Linked DNA regions of Homo sapiens: region 2 is reported to be linked to region 1. The links are microRNA targets in miRTarBase. Many come from high-throughput screens and were not tested one by one. Region 1 holds a microRNA gene; the other region holds the end of a gene's coding sequence.
Evidence for each region. Region 1 holds the annotated microRNA hsa-miR-320d (AAAAGCUGGGUUGAGAGGA, at 2,588-2,606, opposite strand). A microRNA usually pairs through its seed, bases 2 to 8, with sites in the 3' UTR of a target mRNA and lowers its output. Matches are read on the target gene's strand: a 7mer-m8 pairs with bases 2 to 8, a 7mer-A1 pairs with bases 2 to 7 and ends in A, and an 8mer does both.

Region 1 (5,180 bases):
AGTAAGCTTATCCATCATTCCTACACAAAGAGTACAACAGCAAATATATTCCACAACAGTAAAGTAAAAAAAAGTAAATCCATCCCAAGTAAACTCAATAAGAAGGCTTTCCATGAACTGGGCAGCTGTTGGAACCAAGCTGATATGGAATTGCTATACATGCTATACATTCCAATACATGCCCAGAATTAGAATACTGATCCAGATTATTACATTAACCATCCCTCTTGTTTCTTCTGATCAGCAGCCAGAGATCACTGGTTGGTTCACAGGAATAAGCAGAGTTAGTCTAACTTGCAGAAAAAAACTCAAAAACAACTGATGAGACTATAATTGAGTAACAGGTATATCATAGTTTTTGAAACATATTTTTCTCTCTCCAGTATCCCATTTTTATGAAAGACAAATCATAGTAAGACTGATTTGCTTTATTATACTTGGCCTGATTATTTGTGTAAAGTGCAGCAAGAATAATTGTTTTTATATAGGCCTTTAAAATTGGCTTTGATGGAACTTTGTTCCATAAAAGGAATCTCAGATAAGAGTTTTTTTAAAGCTGAGCACAGTCATGGGTTTGTACCCTCAAATACCTATGAGTTGAGTAAATTCCTCTCCTCTTGAGATCCCAAGATAACAAGGGGCTCCTAGGCCTGTTAGAAAGTGACATTCTTTACTTACCACAGGTCAGGAACCCTGTACAGGGACTGTGCAGACAAGATAGGAGGCCAGTTTTCCCAAGGGGCTTTTATTGGCTCTATGCCCCACCCAAGCTGGCAATTCAGGATCTCTGGGAGTGGCCCTGGCTTCCTAGGTGATTCCAATGTGCAGCTCTAGAAGTCACTGCCTCACAGGAAGGTGTGATGGTCTTAGCACTTAATATGGTTCAGCTGTGTCCCTGTATGAATCCGTTCTCACGCTGCTAATAAAGATATACCTGAAACTGGGTAATTGATAAAAGAAAGAGGTTTAATGGACTCACATGGCTGGGGAGGACTCACAATCATGGTGGAAGATGAAGGAAGAGCAAAGGGACTTCCTACATGGCAGCAGGAAAGAGAGCATGTGCAGGGGAACTCCCCTTTATAAAACCATCAGATTTCATAAGACATTCACCATCACAAGAACAGCATGGGAAAGTCTTGCCCCCATGATTCAATTACCTCCCACTGGGTTCATCCCATGATACATGGGAATTATGGGAGCTATAATTCAAGATGGGATTTGGGTAGGGCACAGCCAAACCCTATCAGTCCCCACTCAAATCTCACGTTAAATTGTAATCCCTATGTAATCCCCATGTCAAGGAAGAGACCAGGTGGAAGTAACTGAACCATGGGGGTGGTTTCCACAATACTGTTTGTGATAGTGAGTGAGTTCTCATTAGATCTGATGGTTTTATAAGAGTTTGGCATGTCCTCCTTTGTTCATTCTCCTTCCTGCCACCTTGTGAAGAAGGTGCCTTGCTTCCCCTTCACCTTCTGTCATGATTGTAAGTTTCCTGAGGCATCCCCAACCATGCTGAACTGTGAGTCAATTAAACCTCTTTCCTTTATAGTCTCAGGCAGTTCTTTATAGCAGTGTGAAAATGGACTAATACAGCACTGAAGGATGAGTGGGATTTTATTAGGCAGATGTGTTGGTAATAACTCTTTGATCTAGGTGGTACAGATTCTTTTATCTTCATGTTTTTTGATTAAGAATCTAGGTTTCCAGACACTTAGCTCACACAGTAGCAGAGCAGGCTTTCTAAAATCAGGTCCAATGGTCTTTCCAGGACTCCAGGCTGTCAAAGCCAGGAAGGATTGAAGCAATTAATAAAAATTCATATAAATCTGCTCTGTCTTTTCAAAGTAGAAGTAGTCACAAAATGTTTTGTGTGAATTTTGAAATGAAATAAAACATCAACCTTTTTATGTAGATAAGATTTACATTCATATTTTCCTCCATAATGAGAAATGTTTTATGTTATCTGGATTGCAATTATAAGCTATATAAAAAGAGGGTTTTTTCTTTCAGTAAGTGTCTTATAGCATAAATATGATAAGAATTTGACAGATTTGCTGTTTTTTTCAAATTTATGCTAGCAATTCTCAGTAAAAAACATTTCTATCTTTCCACTGTTATTTTACCTAATGCATAAGGAATATAGTAAATAATATCATATGTGAAATCCAGCTAGAGCAGTAGCATACAAATTGAATAACTTGATGGTCTACTGAAACAGCCTCTTGCCACCCCCATATTACACACACACACACACACACACACACACACATACACACTATCTAAACATAAAAAACTCTAGCTAACTGAACTGGAGCAATAAAAATTAAGTAAAATAGAGATTACCTCAGAAGTGCATCCAAATCATACTGCAAGAATACTAAATGTGATTATTTTAGATGTTTTTTCTTCTTTAGATGTTTATAGACAGGAAATAGTGCATTTTTCTCCAACAACCCACAATATCAAGGCTTACTTGAGTGCATTAAAATAAGTAATTTTTTGTGGCAATATAATAGTGGGAAATCCAGCTTTTTTTCTTGAATTTAAAAATAACGATTTTTTTTTCTTTTTTCTTTTCTGCTCCTCTCAACCCAGCTTTTCCTGACTCCAAGAAGAACTGGGAAGAGAAGGCTTATTGATACATTTGAAGACATTTCAGAAGTAGAATTACAACTTTAGAAAGGCTAAAAGTTCCCACTTGCTTAAAGGTGATAAGAGCTGGTTAGCTTTACAAGGGCTCTAAGAACACAGTGAATATACAGACTTTAATGTGAAAAATGGCTACAAGTAATTGACTGGAGAATCCCAATTTCCAGTGGCAGCAGTCTGAAAATAAGCTGTCCACAGGGCCACACTCCCTTTAGGGCAGGGGTCCCTAACCCCTGGGCCACAGACCAGTGGTGAGCAGTGGGCCTGTGAGCATTACCACCTGAGCTCCACCTCCTGTCAGATTAGCATCCACATGAGAGTCTCATAGGAGCACCAACCCTATTGTGAGCTGTACATGCAAGAGATGTAGGCTGCATGCTCCTTACGATAATCTACCTAAAGCCTGATGATCTGATGTGGAACAGTTTAATCCCAAAACCGCCCCCCAACAACACCTCCCTGAGTACGTGGAAAAATTGTCTTGCATGAAACAGGTCCCTGGTGCCAAAAAGGTTGAGGATTGCTGCTTTAGAGGCTCTAGAAAAGAGTTTGTTCCCTGCCTCTCCCAGCTTTTGGTGGCTCCAAGAATTCCTTGATTTGTGGTAGCATCAATCCAATCTTGCCTCCGTCTTCACATCACCTTCTCCTCTATGTGTTTGTCTCTTCTCTTCTGTTTCTTATAAGGACACGTGTTATCAGTTTTGGGGTCCACCTGGATAATCTAGGATAATCTCATTTTGAGATCCTTACCTTAATTACATCTACAAAACCCTTTCCTCAAATAAAGCAACATTCACATATTCCAGGTATTTGGATGCGGACATATCTTTTGGGTTGGGGTCCCTATTCAACCCACCATGGTTTGTTTCAGTGGAATTAGGGCTGTACCATCTGCTCAAAAACATTAAAACAATTAGGAGGAGCATGAGTGTACCTCAATATCTTATTTGCAAAATGAAGATAGGGACATAGTTTGGTTAGCTAAGGTACGGTGTTTGGCTAAAATGCCATGTTTAACCAGTCAGCATCCACATCTTTAAGGTTTGCTTGTACCCGGTATAATCTCGTTTCTTGAAAACCGAGTAAGTGAAAAATTGGAGGTGAGGGCATAATAGAAACCATATAAAATAGAAAATATATACAAGTTTCTTTCTTTATTTCACTTGTTAGTAGTTCAGAACTTCATAAACACAAATATTACCACTAGCAAGCAGACATCCCCCAAACTCAAAAGTAAAGCATCGACAGATGTGTCTGGCTAGTTGGGTGAGACCATTTCCAAATACTACTTGTAAGTTACTGAGTTGGTTAAGGATCAAATGAGGTTCTGCATTTGAGGTTCTTTTTAAATTGTGTGGTATCATACAAGTGTAAAATATTGCAGTTGCTCTTTTGAAGGGGATAAGAATAAGTGTGATATCATAGATGAACACTATCAAAAAAATTTTTCAGTAAGTAGAAGTTAAAGACATTTTTGTTCGACACACCAAGCATGCTTGCACCTAGTTGGGGTGGTCATTGGGGTTTAGTGTCTGATTATAGATCAATCTAGCAGGTTATTTCCCTCTTCAAGAATGAATTGGGTTTGCATTAGAGATAATCTCCTTGTGCAGAAGTAGGTGAGTCAAGAGGAATTCCTTTCTTGCTTTATTAATTTATTTAGTTATTTATTTAGCTGATACTGATTCATTTGGGATGTAAAGATAGATGAAAATCTTAGAGAAAATGATTACACAATGAGGGAATTTGAGATCCTAGGGAAATAATAATCTGTCAGCAAGATTAAAAATCACTTTTAAGAAAGTGCATCTCATATTTGAGACATATAGTTGCAAAGATTCAGTAGAAAAAAAAATTCATCGCCAATATAATAACAGAGTTAAATGCCATAGAATAGTGGCTTTCCAACTTTTAAAAATCAAACCCCAATTTTTCCCTCAATTAATCTTACCTGGAAGCCCAATACATAAAAGAGACTAAAATGCAGCTGCTCTGGTTGTACTCTATGAAGCTGAGGGCGCGGATGAGGGCCACAATGGACTTGTCGGGGAACTTGCCACAGTTACAATTGTTTATTTCTTGTGTGATTCTTTGATCAATAGCTGTATTCTCCACCAGAGAAGACACCACTCCAGGCTGGGACTTTGATTTTGCTCTCGATTACATCTTTAGTGGCTAACACAGTGCCTGGCACTCAGTATATACTTGTGTTAATGAATGAATGAATGATGGAGAAGACAAAAAAAAAAGTGAATTGAAACAAGCTGGTCAGGCTGATGTCTGACACATCTCAGATGGCAGTGTTAATCTTTTTTCATCATCCTAGCATTTGTCACCAGTACTGGCAGCCAGAGAGAACATTGCATTTTGGTGCCTGGTGTAGTTCCTAGCACACAGTAGATTTTGGTAAATTAAATAAGTGATACTCAGTACATATTAGTTGACCAAATGAATAAGGTGCTAAATGATTGAATAAATGAATGACTGTGTTGTGATAGAATGAGGACAAGTGATTCAATTTTCTG
Region 2 (5,000 bases), not on the chromosome of region 1:
TACGTAGAACAATACCAGGCCCATACTAGATGCTCAATAAATATTTGTTAAATGAAACAGGGTGCCAGTTCCACATGCTGTAGTCCTAACTACTCAAGGGACTGAGACAAAAACCTTCTGGTTTTTGCACCTTTTGTTTCTTTTTCACCTTGATGGCCCTTGAACTCCTGAGCTCAGTTCAAGATCAGCCTGGGCAAAGGCTAGAAGAAGCAAGATCCCATATCTTGAAAAAATATATAAATAAATGAAAGAAAGAAAGGAAGGCATGATACTTCATTAGAAGTGCCTGCATGACCTACTGAAATCCCTGAGGATCAAATGGTCCACATGCAGTGGCTTCCCCCAGACCCAGGTGCTGTGCCCTTTGTTTTATTTTTGGAAAAGAATAAGGGTTGTATCATCTAAACCACATTTCCATTCCTGAGCCTCCAGGGAAGTCCTCCCAGATGATATGGAGCCTGCCACAGAGCCTCCACTCTCGACTTCCATTACCTTCAGACTTCATCTCTGAGTCCCCAATCCTTAAGAGCCAGGCATAAGAGCTGCAGCCGCCGCTGCAGCCGTTGAGTCATCAGGGAACCTGGGGCCCTCCTATGGTATGGCCTTAATCTGTCCTGAACCTAGGATACATACAACTGTCCCAGCCATGGAAGCTCACCCCAACACAAAGAGGGGATGTCTGCTGAGGCTTCCTGAGATACAAGCATGGGTGCATGAAGCCAAGGGGACAGGCCCCCTCTATGAGGCCTGTGGAGAGAAAGAATGGAAACCCTGGGGAGGAAGGCTGTCTCCTCCCCACCAGGCCTGCCTTCAGGGTTGAGGGTGGAATCCCACTTCCTAAGACTACAGCTGAGTCTTGGAGGCTCCCCATGTCAGGAGAAACAGGTTCTTGCCATGACTTTTCTTTCAATATCCCGTCTCAGGCCTAGGGGTGCAATGCAAGCACAGAGTCCTAAGGCCCCTTTGTAAAACTTTTATTTAGAAATCTTCCCGATACATCCTCACATATATATACACATCATCACCACATGGGTTTTTTTTGCTAAAGAGTCACACACCCACAGTGTTGGCCTCTGGGCTGTACAAAGGTCAAGGTACCTGGAGCGGTTACTCCTCTTCTGCAGAAAAATGCAGAGACCAACGCAATTCATCACATACAGTACAACGTTGACGGAAAGTGCTGGGCCCGCCCACAGAAACAATGCACTATGTACACGGGCAGGGGGCAAGTCTTCAGCAGAGGGTCACGTACCATCGAAATCACAAGTACGGCCAGACCCACCCCCAAAAGGCCGAAATAGTTGTCGGCTGACTACAGATGCTGTGCCCTTTGTTTTATTTTGGAAAAGAATAAAGGTTGTACCATCTTGTCATCTGCCATAACAAATAAAAGAATATGAATTTGTCTTAAAAGATGTGATTCCCTTCAGTGGTTATGGTCATCTTTGTTCTCAAAATGTTGTTTTGTTTTGTTTTACCTTTATGTTCTTTCCCCTTTGTACAGATGCTATTCTTGGAATGTTGCCAGTTTTTCATGGGTAACAAGGAAGGAGAGGAAGGATAAGGTCATGGGGTACAGAGGGTGAAAATAAAAATTACAGATCTTCTTTAGTTCTTACAAAGACCTAAAGACTTGCCCTTTCCTACCAGGCTTGTTTTGGGTAGTTGCATTACATTTTACACAGTCTGCCAGTGTTCCCATATCTCTTTTCCATTCTTATTACTGTCCCTGGCCTTGGAACAAGATAGAAATTAAGACAATCTGGGCTGGGTGCAATGGCTGACACCTGTGATCCCAGTGCTTCTGGAGGCAAAGGCAGGAGAATTGCCTGAAGCCAGGACTTCAAGACCAGCCTGGGCAATATAGCAAGACTCCATCTCTACCAAAAAAAAAAAAAAGTAAAAATTAGCCAGGTGTGGTGGCTCACACCTGTGGTCCTCCCTACTCGGGAGGCTGAGGTGAGAGGATTGCTTGAGCCCAGAGTTCAAGGCTGCAGACAGCAATGATGGCACCACTGTACTCCAGCCTGAGTGACAGAACAAGACACCGTCTCTCACACACACACACACACACACACAAATAGATAATCTGGAGAAATGAGGACAATCTCAATAACTCAGGCCAAAGCGGTTTACAATCTAAATTACCCAAATGCTGGGCAGTCAGGCACACCGGCCTACTGCCTAGGTCGTGGACTCAGGCTGCGAAACCCCACTGCAGGATTGAGATTGAGGGAAAAGAAAAAGTTCTTTACGTTCTCAAAACTGTCTACTTTCATGATCCCATTCAGTCCACACCATAGCCCTAGGAGATAGGCCAAGCCAGAGTCACATGGCAAGTCTGAAAGAAGAGGGAGCCAGAAGTTTGAGTTCTTAATAAAATATGTGATCCATCTCATAAAACCCATCCACCCATCCATACTGTGGCTACTTCTCATTCCTAACTCAAGCGAATCCACGGTGAAGCAAACAGCCTTAGATCCTACAGCAATGACTCTATCTTTAGACAGATGGGGCTCCTCACAGGATCTTCCAAACGTTGGAAAGGAACCAACCCTAATTTTCACCAAAACATGATCTGGGGAGCCTGAAATTGAATGGAGAGCCTGAGTGCTACAAAGGTGAACAATGTTGCCCCAAGCTCGAGAATTGGACCTTACTTAAAAGGAAGGGGAAAGGAGCAGACATATTCTCTGTCTGTACATGGCTGAATTAGGGCCCCATCATGGTGAGGACAAGCCACTAGGCTGAAGCCCAAACTATAAGGGGGGGCTTTCCAGACAGCCACAGTGATGAGTTCTTGCATGGCAGGACAGGGCCACAGGCTATCTCTCCTCTGACCTCGAAGGCAGAGCCTAGAGGGAGAGGGCTAGGGTGACTTAAGGGTACAATGACAGACATACAGGACTTCTGTGCAATTTGTCCCATGGGCTTAGATGCAGGTCACAGACAGGCCTCACCTTAAGAAAACCACATCCCACCATCTGGATTGACACAGGAAATCAATGAAGGGGCAGTGGTTCATTCTACAAAAGGATTCTTCACTTTACAAAAGGACTTGCAGTGGTTATTTCTTTAAAAGATGAAGGATAAGGATGTGATTTACAAAAATTTCATGTACAACTTTCAGAGGGGAGCACTTCTATTGCATTAAACCAACCTCCCAGACGCACCCTTGATGACCAAAAGCTGCACAACTGAGGGGTGTTTAAGGTTCTGCTAAGTGAATGTGCATATGTTTGGGTCTTAGCCAGGGCCTGGTCTCTGATTGGATTTCCCATACCCTAGAAGTGAGGCTGGATCCTGGTCCTATTGAGCGCTAAAGATTCCACCAATAACTGAAGTCAAGCAAAAATTCCAAATGCAAAGCATTCATAGGACAGGTTTTGTGCTCAATTCGGAACATAGACCAGACCATCAGCAAACAGACATCTTACAGCAAAGAAATCCCTCTAAGCATCCAGGAGAATGCACAGATGGGGCTGCGCATCTACTCAGCACCAGCGTACGCCCATCAGCACACTGGCATTCACTCGCCAGCATGAACAGTGATGTCGAGGAGTTGAAGCCCACATGCCCAAAATATCTCTTGCTCCATATCACTCTACTATCATTGTCCCTTTCTCTGCCTTCACACAAAGCCCGACAGGGCTTTCTCAGGGCTGCAGACATTGTCTCCACAGCCACAGGCTTAGGAAGGCAAGTCTCATTGGGGAGAAAGCAGAACTTTGATCCCCAGGGCAAGAAGTAAGGGCGACTGGGTTTCCTGACCCTCCGGCCCAGCTCATCTAGAGCAGACTGTCCACTGATCATCTTCTTCAACCAGGCCCTGAAGAAGGCACCTCGAGGCTTGTGACTCTGCAGCATCTGGCAAGCTGGATGGATCAACATAGGCCTGGGTGAAGATGGGGCTCACGAAATGGGCAGCTATTGGGTACCTATAAATATGGACAGAAGTGGCCACACAGGCCACCCCAGCCAGCTTGGGAGGGGCTAAAGGCAAGGCAGAGACTGCTGGATGCCTCAGATGAGAGCTGACAACCCCAGGTCTTAGGAAAGACAGGGATCCCAAACTCCAGGCCAAAAGCAGTGACAACTCCAGCCTCTTACTTGGGAAGGATTTGGGACTGAGGGAAGAGGGAAGACCGTGCCGTCTTCACAAAAAGTACCTACCACTTTGCTCCATTTTTCTGATCTCCTACTGGTACAGGAAACAGAAAAGCCAGCCCCAGGGTCAGTAAAGGCTTCCCAAAGTTCAGACATCCAGGAAAGTTCAAGTCCACCGCCTTGCTTCAGAGCCGCCCAATTCTCACCCCACCTGCCCTGAAGCCCACCATCCCAGCAGCCTAAGAACGCCCTCCTGGCTGATCCTGGTGGCCCAGACCCATCACCGAGGGCCGGCTCCATCGGCGGCAGGCAGCATGGCAGGATGGAGGCTGCGGGCCGTGTGCTTGGGCGCGGGCTCCTCCGTGTAGCTGTCCGGGCTGGCTGCCCCATCCAGGGAGCTGCCGCAGCTGGAGTTGGGGGAAAGCACGTCTTGCAGGAGGTCATCTGGGGGCGCGCCGCCCCCTCCCCCACCTCCACCCCCACCAGCCCCCACCACAGGGTCCTTGCCAGTCTTGGCCCGCTGGGTGCCCTCCTCCTCCTGGTCATTGAGCAGCTTGGCCAAGAAGTTGATATACTTCATGGCCAGGCGGAGGATCTCATTCTTGCTGAGCTTCTTGTCCGGGGGATGTGTGGGGATCAGCTTGCGGAGCTCGGCAAAGGCCCCGTTCACATTCTGCTGCCGCCATCGCTCCCGGCTGTTGGTGAAGATACGCCGCACAACTTTGGTGTGGGGACCTGGAGATTAGGAGGACAAGAGTTAGGAGAATGGGCTTGAGATTCCTTCCCCAAAGGCATCTCCATACATTGGGAAACTTGGGAAGCCTAGAATGCCTACTTTCCTTTTACTTAGAAAACATCCACCCTTCAAATTCAAGTTCCTGTGCTTCCTCATC

Region 2: the mRNA of TAL1 is a reported target of hsa-miR-320d. Seed matches in the 3' UTR shown: 7mer-m8 at 3,186-3,192.

The regions. Positions count from the first base shown.
Region 1 is chrX:140,923,585-140,928,764 of GRCh38, forward strand. MIR320D2 (microRNA 320d-2) reads right to left here and starts at 2,647; the gene lies at 2,576-2,647.
Region 2 is chr1:47,215,333-47,220,332 of GRCh38, forward strand. TAL1 (TAL bHLH transcription factor 1, erythroid differentiation factor) reads right to left here. Exons shown (of 5, transcript NM_001290403.2): 5 at 959-4,842. The coding sequence ends at 4,388. Among named protein-coding and RNA genes, the nearest start is that of TAL1, 14 kb to the right of the region's middle.